3 linked regions of the Homo sapiens genome follow. The protein of the gene in region 3 interacts with the protein of the main gene of each other region in a biochemical or structural test. Each region holds a gene or a part of one and is shown on either strand. Other genes may lie near its edges.

The links. The genes of interacting proteins can lie anywhere in the genome.
Region 1: the proteins of MTNR1B (region 3) and YWHAQ form a complex in vitro, tested with the Homo sapiens proteins (one large-scale study listed by BioGRID).
Region 2: the proteins of MTNR1B (region 3) and FLNA form a complex in vitro, tested with the Homo sapiens proteins (one large-scale study listed by BioGRID).

Annotation. Positions count from the first base shown.
Region 1 is NC_000002.12:9,585,998-9,590,265, forward strand, and holds part of YWHAQ (14-3-3 protein theta), read right to left. Parts: intron 2,332-4,268; coding exon 2,168-2,331; intron 1,513-2,167; coding exon 1,417-1,512; intron 1-1,416. UniProt on the Homo sapiens protein: Adapter protein implicated in the regulation of a large spectrum of both general and specialized signaling pathways. Binds to a large number of partners, usually by recognition of a phosphoserine or phosphothreonine motif.
Region 2 is NC_000023.11:154,364,635-154,368,902, forward strand, and holds part of FLNA (filamin-A), read right to left. Parts: intron 3,457-4,268; coding exon 3,208-3,456; intron 3,105-3,207; coding exon 3,007-3,104; intron 2,911-3,006; coding exon 2,763-2,910; intron 2,217-2,762; coding exon 2,098-2,216; intron 2,006-2,097; coding exon 1,928-2,005; intron 1,837-1,927; coding exon 1,674-1,836; intron 1,591-1,673; coding exon 1,390-1,590; intron 853-1,389; coding exon 715-852; intron 626-714; coding exon 502-625; intron 324-501; coding exon 187-323; intron 86-186; coding exon 1-85. UniProt on the Homo sapiens protein: Promotes orthogonal branching of actin filaments and links actin filaments to membrane glycoproteins. Anchors various transmembrane proteins to the actin cytoskeleton and serves as a scaffold for a wide range of cytoplasmic signaling proteins.
Region 3 is NC_000011.10:92,971,115-92,976,150, forward strand, and holds part of MTNR1B (melatonin receptor type 1B), read left to right. Parts: intron 1-5,036.

The DNA.
Region 1 (4,268 bases), on a different chromosome or scaffold from region 3:
CCCAATGCTCTTCTTGAAAGCACTACTGCATTATTATTACAGACTAATAAAGCAAAACATTTTCACAGGGAGGAAAAAGCCACAATCATGGTTAACAATTTTCAAGTGTGTGAAGGGCTAAACTATAGGAAAAGCAGACTTACTTTGTGTTTCTCCAAGAATTAAATAGAAGTGGGTGATGGAAGCTACAGGGAAGCAATGTGTGCATGTATAGACAGGGTTCTTGAATTAGACAGAATGTTAAAACTAAGTGGATCTTCCAGGATCTCTCTGATTTTAGGATAGGAAGATGAAGTGAAGAAGAGAAGTCAGTATTTATTGACTATAATTGCACTTTATTAGACCAACAGCAAGACATTAGTGTTAATTTCAGAAAAGCCAGAATCTTACATAATCCTTAGATTATTATGAAGATACTAAATAAAAACAAACAAAACAAAATCCCCCAAAGACCTGTCTCCATAATAGAGATAACAAAACAAAACCGATTAAAAGATAGTTAGCTCCAAGGTATACATCTGGGAAGAGGTATAACTGCCTAATTTGCTCTTCCTCTGTAGAACTATTTGCTGATCATCTTCCATTGTCCCCTCACAACCACAGGCACTTCTCATGGCTAGAAATGCAGGGTCTTCGTTCCCCTTTCAGTGGATTCATAATTACCCTATTCAGCAAAATTGAATAGACATGGTGCTAATATTTAAAAAATCCTATCTAGTAAATGATAAAGCACCAAACTAGGGGGCTGGGAGGACGAGATCTATATTAAAAGATTTGTTCCCTTCTTTTTCCTTCTGTGAAGTCTAAGATTTTACCTATCAAATTTACTTGAACCTACAAAAGAATGTTAAAGTAAAGCTTAAGCTGTACTTTTTCTTGATTACTTCCTTTATCAATTGCCTATCTAAGAAGCAGGGAGAAAAAGACAAACAAAACAGAAGCTTTTGCCTAGAAGCAGAGAAGGAGTAAGTTTAGGTATAGGTTTACTCCCTAAATGCTTGTAGAACATCATGCACAATTCACAAAGTAAACTTTTATTAGAACAAGGTACTTCCTGTGATTTTAAGAAAGCGTAGATATTTAGATAGTCCCTAACTGGCTATAGCTGATTTGCCCCAAAATATTGAAACTTGATAAGCTCTTTATTAACATAATTTATCAACATCTTCATCCCAATGAAATAGTAATATTAATATTGAGTTCCTATCATGTTAGAACCTTCTCAGGAAGGTCTGATAAAATGCCTATTCAACTTGAAAACCTGCCTACAAAATAATGTTCGTCCCATAAAATACTAACACGTATCTCATACTTTCAGCTCGTATGTATCTTCCCTAAAAGACACGAAGTCCAAAATAAAATATAAATACTTTTGTTTCTGAAAAGAAAATAAAATTAAAAGAGTAAACAACTCACTGTTAGGTTGTCTCTAAGCAACTGCATGATGAGGGTGCTGTCTTTGTATGAGTCTTCATTCAGTGTATCAAGTTCAGCAATGGCCTCATCAAAAGCCTGATAAATATTAATATCCATGGTAAAATATGTGCATTGACGAAAACTGGTTATTCTACAATTACAAACCATTTTTACAAAATAAGTGAACACCCACCTTATGTTCTACCATCAACAAACTCAACAGAACCATTCTCTCACACTCCCAGTTTAAGAACTTATGAGTATGACTGGAATTTTATAAAACTATACACTTAGTAAACAAGCATGTCTTGGTTCTTTCACAGGACAACGGAACAGCAGCAATGCTTAACAGACTTCTTTCCAGTTAAGTAGTACTTATCTCTACAGGGTCCTCTTTATTCTCTCGTTTTGAGCCACTTTGAGGAATGTGGCTGATGCACAGCTATTCTAGTAACCAAACCTGGCAGGCATGACTTTCTAATCTTTTATGTTTCCTTCTTAACATCATTTATCCTTCTTTGATTACTCTGCTCAGTATGCTCTGTAGGCACATCACTGCTTATAATCATAGGGTAGAGTAAGGTGTCAGGGGTAGGAGTAGGTAATCATGATGGGAAGAAAAAGAGGAGATTTCAAAATAAATATAGTAGAAATCATCCCTGGGTATCCAAGTAAAATACCTATAAATTAACATACCTGGTATCTCAAATAACTGTAGCTAAAGTACGTATTTCCTGGACACACATCTTACCGTTTTAGCCAGCGTGCAGGCAAGCTCTGGGTTATTAAGAATCTCATAGTAAAATACAGAAAAGTTAAGAGCAAGCCCCAGGCGGATTGGGTGTGTGGGTTGCATCTCTTTCTTGCTTATATCAAATGCCTCTTGGTAAGCTCCTTGGGAATTATCTATCGTTTCTGTGAAGAGCGAAAAATAAGAAGTGCAATATTAAAAATAACCATCCAGTACACAGTACATTAACAACTTGAACATATGCTACTAGCTCTTGGTAGAACCAAGATTTTTTCTCTGTATGGGTCTTTTAAAATCATGGTAGCTAACAAAAAACATTATCGTGGCCAGGCGCGGTGGCTCACGCCTATAATCCCAGCACTTTGGGAGGCCGAGGTGGGTGGATCACTTGAGATCAGGAGTTCAAGACCAGTCTAGCCAACATGGCGAAACCCCATCTCTACTAAAAATACAAAAATTAGCCAGGCGTGATGGCGGGCATCTGTAATCCCAGCTACTCAGGAGGCTGAGGCATGAGAATCGCTTGAACCTGGGAGGCTGAGGTTGCAGTGAGCCGACATCACACCACTGCACTCCAGCTTGGGCAACAGAACGATACTCTGTGTCAAAAACAAACAAACAAAAACAATATTGTGTACTGGGTATTTAAGAACTTGTTTATGGCCAGGTGCAGTGGCTCATGCCTCTAATCCCAACACTTTGGGAAGGTGAGGCAGGGGGATCACTTGAACCTGAAGAGTTCAAGACCAGCCTGGGCAACACAGGGAGATCTTATCCCTGTCTCTACAAAAAATAATAATAATAAAAAATAGCTAGGCATGGTAGTGCGTGCCTGTAGCTCTAGCTACTTGGGAGGCTGAGGTGGGAGGACCCCTTGAGCCCAGGAGGTTGAAGCTGCAGTGAGCCAAGATCATGCTGCTGCACTCCCAACCTCAGTGACAGTTTGTCTCAAACAAACAAACAAAACAAAAAACCAGTTTAGAATGTTGCTTACATATAAACAGCTTAATGGAAAAAAAACATGAGATATTATAGTAAATCAGACTTTTTTCCATACCTAGGCTAAAACTATTTTCTTATTTTATGTCTTTTAATTCTATTACTTGGAAATGCAGCAATTAAAAATAATTTGACTGGAATAATTTACAGTGGCTCACGCCTGTAATCCTAACACTTTGGGAGGCTGAGGCAGGCAGATCACCTGAGGTTGGAGGTACAAGACCAGCCTTACCAACATGGAGAAACCCCGTCTCTACTAATAATACAAAAATTAGATGGGAGTGGTGATGCATGCCTGTAATCCCAGCTACTTGGGAGGCTAGGCACAAGCCTCACTTGAACCCGGGAGGCGGAGCTTACGGTGAGCCAAGATCGCGCCATTGCACTTCAACCTGGGCAACAAGAGCAAAACTCCATTCAAAATTAATAATAATAATAATAATTTGACTGGAATACCCTTTCCCTAAATAATGTAAACTTTACAAAGATCATCAACACCAAAATCTCTATTTTTCTGATTTGCAGAAATACTGATTCTTAGTATCAAGTGGTATTATTTGAAAGGCAATATAAAAGTTTCAATAAATAGGACAAAATCTGCTCTGACCAGAGTTTGATTACTAGCCTAATTAAAATGTTACTCCCCCTTCAAAAAATGTTCAGTATTACCAACACTAATCTGATTATACCCATGTTTTGAAAAGGGTAGTTTTCTGTATGAGGCCACTGGCCTATTACAGCTTTAGAGATACTGACGTAAGAGAATTAAGCTATCCCTTTATGACCTGAATTATGTTCATTTTCTTTCCTCTGAAATGGCACATTTATTGATCTAATCCCTGACTGGTACAGCCCACATGCAATAAGAAGTTCTTGCAGCTTGGCAAATTAGGAAGCACCAGTGTCTCAGCAATTAGGCTATAAAGACAGCCTATCTATGAATCGCAGCCTATCAGAATGTACACAGGACTACGTGTGAGACCTGAAAGTGCCAATGAGCTCCTAAGGGTTAAATCAGGTTAAAGCTACAGCTATGTCTCAATCTCCCAAATACTTCTCTTTGGCTTTCTGATACTTAAATGTACAGTTCCGTGCCCGTATC
Region 2 (4,268 bases), on a different chromosome or scaffold from region 3:
TGCGGCCAGTAGCGCACATCACAGGAGCCGTCGCCCTTGTCGTCACATTCGATCTTAGCCTGCGATGGCCCTTCCACCGAGAAGCCTGACAACAGCCACCAGTCCCCTCAGTGCCCTGGAGCCTCAGGGTGGGCCGTCCTTGCCATCGTCTGTCCCCAGGTGCCCATGCTGCAGCCTCCAACTTACCCAGCGTGCCCACGTCGTCCCCGATAGCCTCCACCACAAAGTCTGCTGACTTGCCAACGACGCCGCCCTCCAGCCCAGGGCCCCAGGCCCGTACCTTCTGATTGCCACACTCGGTGCCCACCTTCACTTCGAAGGGACTGCAAATGCGAGAGCCACACAGGGAACACCGAGGATCACCACATGAGCCAGCGTGGGCCCCACTGTGGCGGCCAGGCAGGAAGAGCCCATGTGGCCCCTCATCATCAGGTGGGGAGGCAGAAGGAAGAGAAGAGGCAGAGTGTGCAGAGCTGGGAGAGGGATGCCTGGGGGCCTCACCTGCGCCCGATGTTCTGACCACCCCACGTGATGGTGACGATATAGGTTCCAGGGACCATGGGGTAATACTCGAAGCCATACACGCCATCCCCCAGGTCCTTCTGCTTCACGCGCTCCTCTCCCTCTGCCAAGACAAGGAGGGCCTCAGGCCTGCCCAGCAGTGAACCCGGGGGCTGCCGCCACCCATCCTGGCCTGGCTCCAGGCCAACTTACTGGGGCCCTTCACGGTGACCTTCAGCTCCCCACTGCCAGCGCCCTTTGTGTACACCTTGAAGTCAGCTGTCTCCTTCACCCGCACACCCTTGGGCTGGAGGCCCCGGCCAACCGCCCGGCAGGCACTCGGGTTACAGGCTGCAGGCAGAGGGGCCAGCTGAGCACCAGCAGCTCGGCTGGGCGACCCCTCCCTTGCCTCCCACAGGGCCGGGCTGTCAGGATTGGTGGGTCCCTCAGAGCTTGGCTGGAGGGGGACATGCAAGACAGAACTGGAAGGGACTGTGACCCCAGGAACTGTGGCCTGGGCCAGGACATGGCAGGCCTCCTCCCACCTGCTCCACACCAGCCCAGAGCCCCCCACCCTCCCCCTTCCAAGAAGAAGACAGATCCAAGTACCGTTGACCCTGTGGGCAGAGCAGAGAGCAGCAGGTTTCTAGACAGCTGGAGCGAGCTCTTCCGAAGGTGAAAGCGTGAGGAGAGAGATGGAGAGGGGCGAGGAGAGGAGAGGAGGAAGGGCCCCAGCAGGGGAGGAAAAACAGCATGTGCCCAGACAGTAGAAGCTCAAAGAGTAGGGGCCCCGGGGCGGGCTGCAGCGGGACTGGCCCAGGGGGTCCCCCTCCTGTGGGAGGCCCAGACTGCAGTGCCACAGCAGAGGGCAGTCAGGGCCGGGCCTACCTTGGCCAACAGTGACAGTGTAGGGGCTGCGAGGGATGGGCACGCCGGCAAACGTGACGTGCACGGTGTGGACGCCCTCCATGGTGGGCTGGTAGCTGCAGCGGTATGTGCTGTCGCCCCGGGCCTCCAGCTGAGGCTCTACCGTGCCCTTCTGTCCCATGGGGTCCTGGATCACAACCTCGACCTCGCCCGTGCCAGCTCCTGCCACGAGGCACCTGCTCAGCTCCCAGGCCCCAGTGCGGCTCTCCCCACAGACCAGCTGGGCCTTGGCAGCCTCCCCTCACCTGCCGTAAAGATCTCAAAGTAGGTGGTCTTGTTGGCGATGTTGCCACTGGGCTCCAGGCCGGGACCTTGGGCTGTCACTTTGCTGGCGTCACCCTGTGACTTATCCACGTACACCTCGAAGGGGCTCTTGGCGATGTGCTGGCCAGCAAAGAGCACAGTAACCTGTCCCCAGAAGGGTGGGCCGTGAGGGTAGGGCTGGGGGCCTCCAGCCACTGCCTGAGGTCACAAGCCTCCCCCCTGGCCAAGGGCTCACCTTATGAGTCCCCGTCACCTCGGGGACGTACCAGACGGAGAAGGTGCGGTTCTTGTCGTTATTGGCGGTCACTTTTGCCTGCAGTGGGAAGGAGCCTGTGAGCCTTTGCTAAGAGCAGCCCCACTGAAAGGGAGCGCTGCGGGGCCTCTGCTGCCAGCAGCTGGCCCTACCTCCTCCTGGTGTCCGGCCGGGTCCTCCACGTACACCAGCACCTCTCCCTGGCCAGCACTTCTGGTCTCCACAGTGAACTCTGCCCGCTTCTTCACCATGTTGCCTGTGGGCTCGATGCCTGGCAGGGGAAGGCGAGCCAACCACGGGCCAGCTGTTAAGGCCACAGCCTCACCCCTCCACCCTTCAGCCCTCCCTGCTGGCCCCTAAGTCAGGCACATTCCAAACTGGGCAAGTTCATTCAGTGTGAGCTGTGGCACAGAGCCTGGCCTCGGGACCCAGCTGTGCTCTCGCTGCTGGGACAGGCCCAGCCTGTTTTCTGGAACATTCATTCTCACCGCACTGGGCCCTTGTTCCTGTGTGAGCCTTGACTGGGTTTTAGGTCCCTGTTACTGAGACCTGGTTCATCTCCATTTATAATAAAGACCGCTGGATGCTACCTCCCCGAGGACCCCACGCAGCAGGCTTCTGTGACTGGAGGAACCTATTAGCATTCTCTTGTCGTTTTCACTAGTCCCAAAAACCCACTCTTGTCTGACTCTTGGGTGGCTTGATCACCTAGCCGCCATGTAACCCAAGACCCCTGGGGACCGCCACGTTTAGATGGGACACTGTCTTATGGGGAAGACGTTGGCACACGGGTGCACCCCTGGTGGGGCTCCCTCACCTGGCCCGTAGGCACGGGCTTTCTTCGGGTTCAGTTTGGGCCGCAAGGGAGCCCCTGGCTTCAGCTTGGCCTTGGGGAACTGGGACAGGTAGGTCATGACAGAGTGCTCGTCCACGTTGGGGTCCACAATCTCCTCGGGGGTGATCACCTGTCACAGGCAGAAAACAGGAGCCATCGGGCCTCCGAGTCTCTCCCAACTGCCGATCCGGTCCCCTACAGCTGTAGCCAGGCCGGGCGGGTGTACCTGGGGGATGCCCAGCCAGTCATCCGCCTGCTGCATGGCCTCTCGCGCATTGGTAACGGGCTTGCTGGCGTCCCAAGAGTCCCAGTCAGGACACAGGCCTGTGGCGCAAGGGAGGCTGTGAGTCTGGGGGCCGCAGAACCCCCTCAAGGGCCACCCATGGGTGACCCCAGCCCAGTCTCTCCTGCCTCTGCGCCCCCTCACCCGGGGCACAGCTGTCCACCAGGGCGCCCAGGGCCCGGCCGCTCTGCCAGTCCCGGCTGAAGTTGGTGATGGGCAGCTGCGGCAGCTTGTTCTGGATCCAGCCCAGGAGCCTCTGCTTGGGGGTCTGCTTCTTGGCCTCCTCATCCTCCTCCTCGTCCCACATGGGCATGGAGATGGAGTAGTGCAGGATCAGGGTCCAGATGAGGCCCAGGATCAGCTTCAGGTTCCCGTCCACGATGGCCTTGCTGTCTGTGAGTAGAAGAGTGGCCACGCTGGGCACACGGCTGTGCGGGAGGGGCCGATCCCAGGCTTTGGGGTCAGGGTCTGGCAGCACGGGGTAGCAGGGGCCAAGGAGGAGGTAGACACCCCCTCTTGGCCAGTGGTAGGATGTGGATGAGGCCCTCTCTGCCCAGGGTCCCAGGGGGTGTTCAGAGGTGAAGGAGACTTTGGGGTGAGGGCAGATACACACAGACACACACACACGATGCCAGCAGGGTATGATTACTGCCAGAAGCCCTGGGCCCAGAGGAAGGGCAGAGGGCAGACCCAGCCTGCAGATGGGCAGCTCTGGAGAACAGCTGGACAGTGTCCACAGCTGCCAGAGCAGGGGTCCGCCACACACCTCAGGGGCCTATGGGGAACCAGGAGGAGGAGGCTGACTCCAGCTGGCCCAGAATCCAGGGCCCATGACCTGGAGTGGGGCTGGGGCTGAGGAAGAGGAAGGTGGGTGGCCCTGGGTGGTTGGGAAATACAACTGTTGTTCCAGGGTGGGTGGGGTGAGGCAGGGGAAGTGGGGGAGTTGGGCAAACGCCCTTTGGGTGAGGGATTGTGACCCCCGCCACCACCCCCACTTCCTCTACCACCTCGAAGACTCAAGCTTGGAGTTGGGAGGCCACAGGCCTAGCCAGGGGAGGGGCCCAGAGCCCAAAGGAACCAGCAGTTGGGCCACATGGCCCTGACTCACTGGGGCCCATCGGGAGATGCCGGGGTGGCAGCAGGAGACACTGGGAACCCCCTTGCCACCCACTGCCTGACCCACTTGCCACCTAACGGGCCTCTGG
Region 3 (5,036 bases):
ACACCCAGGTAATTTTTTATATTTTTGGTAGACACAGTATTTCACCATGTTGGCCAGGCTGGTCTCGAACTCCTGACCTCAAGTGATCCACCCGCCTCGGCCTCCCAAAGTGCTGGAATTACAGGCATGAGCCACTGCGCCCGGCCAACTCTAGGATTTTTAGCTAAAAAAACAAACAAGAAACTCCTCCAACTGTGAGTATCCAGCCATCATATGGGAAACATAACATTATTAAGAAGAAGTAAACTTTCTAACTCACTTCAGTAGTGGTGGCTGTTTTCTGGAATACATTGTTCAAAATATTGTGTCCTTTGAAGAAAAGCTTATATATTAGGGAAAAACAGGTTATGATTAGAAAACTGCATTTAATATTTTTGACACATTGTCCCTTGCAGCCATCATAAACATTCATTTCCAGCACAGGGAAGCAAAAGGGAGACAACTCCTGGCTCTATGGGGGAGAAATGGGTCCTCCTGGTTCTGACATTGGCCCCTTCTGTCCCTGACTTATTGAGTATTTAGAGCAGGTCTGTCAGGCCATGGCTCCCTGCTCAGTAATTTGGATTGCCCACCATGAGAAAGGTGGTTGAGGGAAGTAGGAGTTGCTTCCTTTTGCTGGAAGGAGAAAAGCACCCCTCCCCTCCTGCATCCTACAGAGGGCTGGCCTTTTCTGTGATCCTGGCAGGGTCTGCAGAAACCTAACCAGTTTAAGAGCATCACTGGGGAGGGTCATGAGCATGTTAAATTGCTGGCATATCCTCTGTTCTATCTTTCCTACCTCCTGATGTGTCCGCTACAGCCCAGCACCCGAACAAAAAAAAATAATAATAACACTATATCTAAATGACATCAATTCCTGCCACTGCTGCAGTCTTGCAATTTAACCAGTTCTTATGTGACCTCTGGCTTTATTGGTGACAGTCACAAACAATTGTAGTACTGACTTGAACTAAATGATCTCAGCAGAGTGAGATTTCAAAAGGCGCTTAAAACCTACAGCTCTTTGAATAGTTAGCACACATTCTACTCTTAATCAGGCCTTGTCTTACTGAAGAGTTTGGATTTAATTTAAGAAACGCTTCTTCAGACCTTTCTGTACTTAAGTCTGGCTCCTTAAATCATTGGTATTAAAAAATTAAGTCTGTAACAATGAGAATACATATATTTCCAATAACCAAGATACATAGCCCATATTGAGGTCACAGCATGTTTCCCAGGAGACACCAGTATCCTTTACTTGCCTATCACAAACCCAGTTCCTCTATGGAGCAGATCTGTATCATTCCTAACAGTGCCGCTCCTGATGGCAGGGTGAGTGGTTAGATTAATTGTCTTTTTTTTTTCAGGGATATCCTATCTGTAGTGTCTGTTGCTGCATGTGGTGGGTTGACTTCAGAGATAGCACCAGAGAAAGGCAGACAGGGAGGAGTGGAGGCAAGGTGGGAGGTAGGGTCAGGGCACCGACCCAACTTAAAAGGTAAGGCCAAGTGTGTTCACTCTTTGCTACATTCTCAGAGTCTTGCACAGCCCATGGCACTGGGTTGGCACCTCACGCCTGTCAGATTGTGCTTCCCAGGGACTTGCCACACTTTTGACTCTACTGAGAGCCGTTGAGAACTTTCCCTCCTGGGCTCACCACTGCTGCCCTGACCCTTGAGCTACACCTCGCTAATATTTATCTCTTGCATTTTTGAGCTCTTCCTTTCTCTCTTCTGGAAACTTCCTCCATGTTACACACACACACGATACACAAAGTCTCCTGTTTTAAAAGAACAAAAGACTCTTTTCTTGACTTCATGTCCTCCTAACTTCATCACTACCTCTCTCCCTCCCTTTTCAGCCAGACATTTTAATGTAGTTGTGGACATCTACTGGTTCTACCCCATTGCTTCCCGTCCTTCCTCAGTCCTCTGGGCGCCATTCTCTGGAAATGTTCCTCTGTGCTGTGTGTGACACTGAGGGCCACTCCCTCTGTGGGACCTTTCATTCCCTCGGCTAACCTGGTGCTAGTTTTTGGATCTCCTTTTTCTCTTCATCTCCCGGATACCTGTGCCCTGAAAGTCATCTTTGGTTCCTCCTACTCTTTCATTCCACATGTCCTAATGATTTTACCTTCCACTATTTCTCAATTTCTCCCTTTCCTGCCTCCTTATTCTTACTGCCCCACTTCATGCCTTCATCATCTCTTGAGCAAACACTATCCATAGTGCTTGAGAGCTTTTCCTGCTCCCTCCCCCAGCCACTGTTACCACTGCCAAGAGTTTCCCTGTCTTCAGTGGCTGCCCTCCATCTCCAGAACAGTGTCCAACTCCAGAGCACAGCTCCCACGGCCATTTGCGGCTGGCCTAGCCCACCTAACTTACAGCCTCATTGCCCTCCTCTCACCAGTGTCACAGTGAGCTGCTGCTACTTCCCAAAGGGTCTGCACTCCCTGATGTACTTTCTCTACCTCTTCTGCCCAGTCAACAGCTGCTCCTCCTTCAACTCCTTCCCCAACTCCCCTGAAGGATTATCAATGTTGATTATTAATACCATGAAGGGGATAGTAAGTGTCTCCCTTGTTGGGCTTCTAAGATACCTGTGCCCTCCCCAGTACAGCATCCCCCTCACTGTACTATTGTTCTTTGTCTCTCCCCGCTGGACCGTGTACCTGCTGAGAGCAGACACTTTCATTCAGTTTCTGTCCACAGAGCCAGACACATAGTAAGAACAGAACACATCTCTGATTAAATTGGAAATGGATAAGACACCAGGTAGTGGGGGAAAATTAATTGATTTTGCTCCATGAGCTGGGATAGACCTCAGTTACAGTACTCAGCACTGCATAAGTAATCAATACAGGTTTTCATGAAACTGAACTGCTTTGAGAACAGCCCAAAGTATATCTCATGTTAAGCTGACTATTGGCACCTTCTGCATGAAGGCATGCTTGTTCTGTGATTCTCCTGTGTGAGTAAAGTTGCTCAGCAGTTTCCAGCCATGCCATGGTTGTACCCTACTGATTCCTCTTGGGGAGTTTGCCCCTGATATGCTTTGGCTGTGTCCCTACCCATGTCTCATCTTGAATTCCCACATGTTGTGGGAGGGACCTGGTGGGAGGTAATTGAATCATGAGAGCAAGTCTTTCCCATGCTGTTCTCACAATAGTGAATAAGTCTCATGAGATCTGATGGAAAAAGAGAAACTCCCCTGCACAAGCTCTCTCTCTTTGCCTGCTGCCAGCCACATAAGACATGACTTGCTCTTCCTTGCCTTCCACCATGATTGGGAGGCTTCCCCAGCCATGTAGAACTGTAAGCCCAATGAAACCTTTCTTTTGTAAGTTGTACAGCCTTGGGTATGTCTTTTGTTGTTGTTGTTTTTTGTGAGACAGAGTTTCACTCTTGTTGCCCAGGCTGGAGTGCAATGGCATGATCTCGGCTTACTGCAACCTCTCCTGCCTCAGCCTCCTGAGTAGCTGGGATTACAGGCATGAGCCACCACACCTGGCTAATTTTTTTTTTTTCTGAGACAGAGTCTTGCTGTCGCCCAGGCTGGAGTGCAGTAGCGCAATCTCGGCTCACTGCAAGCTCCGCCCCCTGGGGTTCATGCCATTCTCTTGCCTCAGCCTCCCGAGTAGCTGGGACTACAGGCGACCGCCACCTCGCCCGGCTAATTTTTTGTATTTTTAGTAGAGACAGGGTTTCACCGTGTTAGCCAGGATGGTCTCGATCTCCTGACCTCGTGATCCGCCCGCCTTGGCCTCCCAAAGTGCTGGGATTACAGGCGTGAGCCACCGCGCCCGGCCTAATTTTGTATTTTTTAGTAGAGATGGTGTTTCTCCATGTTGGTCAGGCTGGTCTCAAACTCCTGACCTCAGGTGATCCACCCACCTCAGCCTCCCAAAGTGCTGGGATGACAGGTGTGAGCCACTGTGCCCGGCCTTGGGTATGTCTTTATCAGCAGCGTGAAAACAGACTAATACAGCCCCTTTCTTGGTCTGGCCCGAGGTGGCCACTTTTAAGCTGCCTGTAATATGCTGGCCATATAAGAGAGCTGAGAGAACCATGTCCTCACTGTAACACCCAAGTACTCTCCACTATCAGAGAGGAAGTCATAACAACACCAGTTATTCCTGGCTCCATAGGCACAGCCACCTTAATTTTCCAAGTAGCAGTCAGAAGCTGTGGTCTGACAATGGATTTTTGTGCTGCAAATGGGTTAAAGAGGCTGTCTGGGAGGTTTAGTGAGTGCACGAATTGGCATTTCTGGGGTACGTTGATGATTGGTAAAGCAGAAATATATGAACTATTTGATGTTAAGATTGCCTAGGAAAACATGGAGGATTTGCTTGCTGAACACACAGATCTTTGTCCAAGGTCACTCTGTCTATGCTGGCAAAGCTGCCCCTCCTCCAGGCCCCCAGTGATGCTAAGAATTCACACCATCTCCTATCCAGAACCAGTAACTGCCTGGGAGGTTCCTGATGGGAATATTCTGCCTATGCAGGTGCTTTGCTTCCCCGGTTAGATTAGAAAACAGTCTGCACTGTGGCCCCTGTTCCTTGCCTCCTCTCTTCCAACTTGTTGACTGAGACAGCAAATGATGCTTAATAAGCAGCATGGTTCTGAACAAAGGCTCTGGAAGGCCTAGAGTGAAATGCTTAATAGGCCCACAGCCCCTACCCTCCAAGTTATAGAATGAAGTGGAGCCCACTCCATCAAGGCTTCTATCCTACCACCGACCACTCATTGAGATGTCACTTGGCATCAGGTGTCTTTTGACTTGCTCAGCCTGCAATGTTTAGAGTGCCATTATCAGCCCAAGACCAAACTGGGTAACCTTGGACTCCTTCCTGAATGTTTCTTAAGCTGTCCAACTTTGCATTTCAGCTGTGAATACCTTATTGCCTCTTCACTGAGCAAAAATGAACAGTTTTTAAATCCCATAATTATGTCTTTAGCTGAATAATCAGGAAAGCTAATAATCCTCTTTAATTCCTCCCATGTAACTTTCAGTAGCTCAAGGGTATAAAGACTTTAATGTTTGCCTGTCTT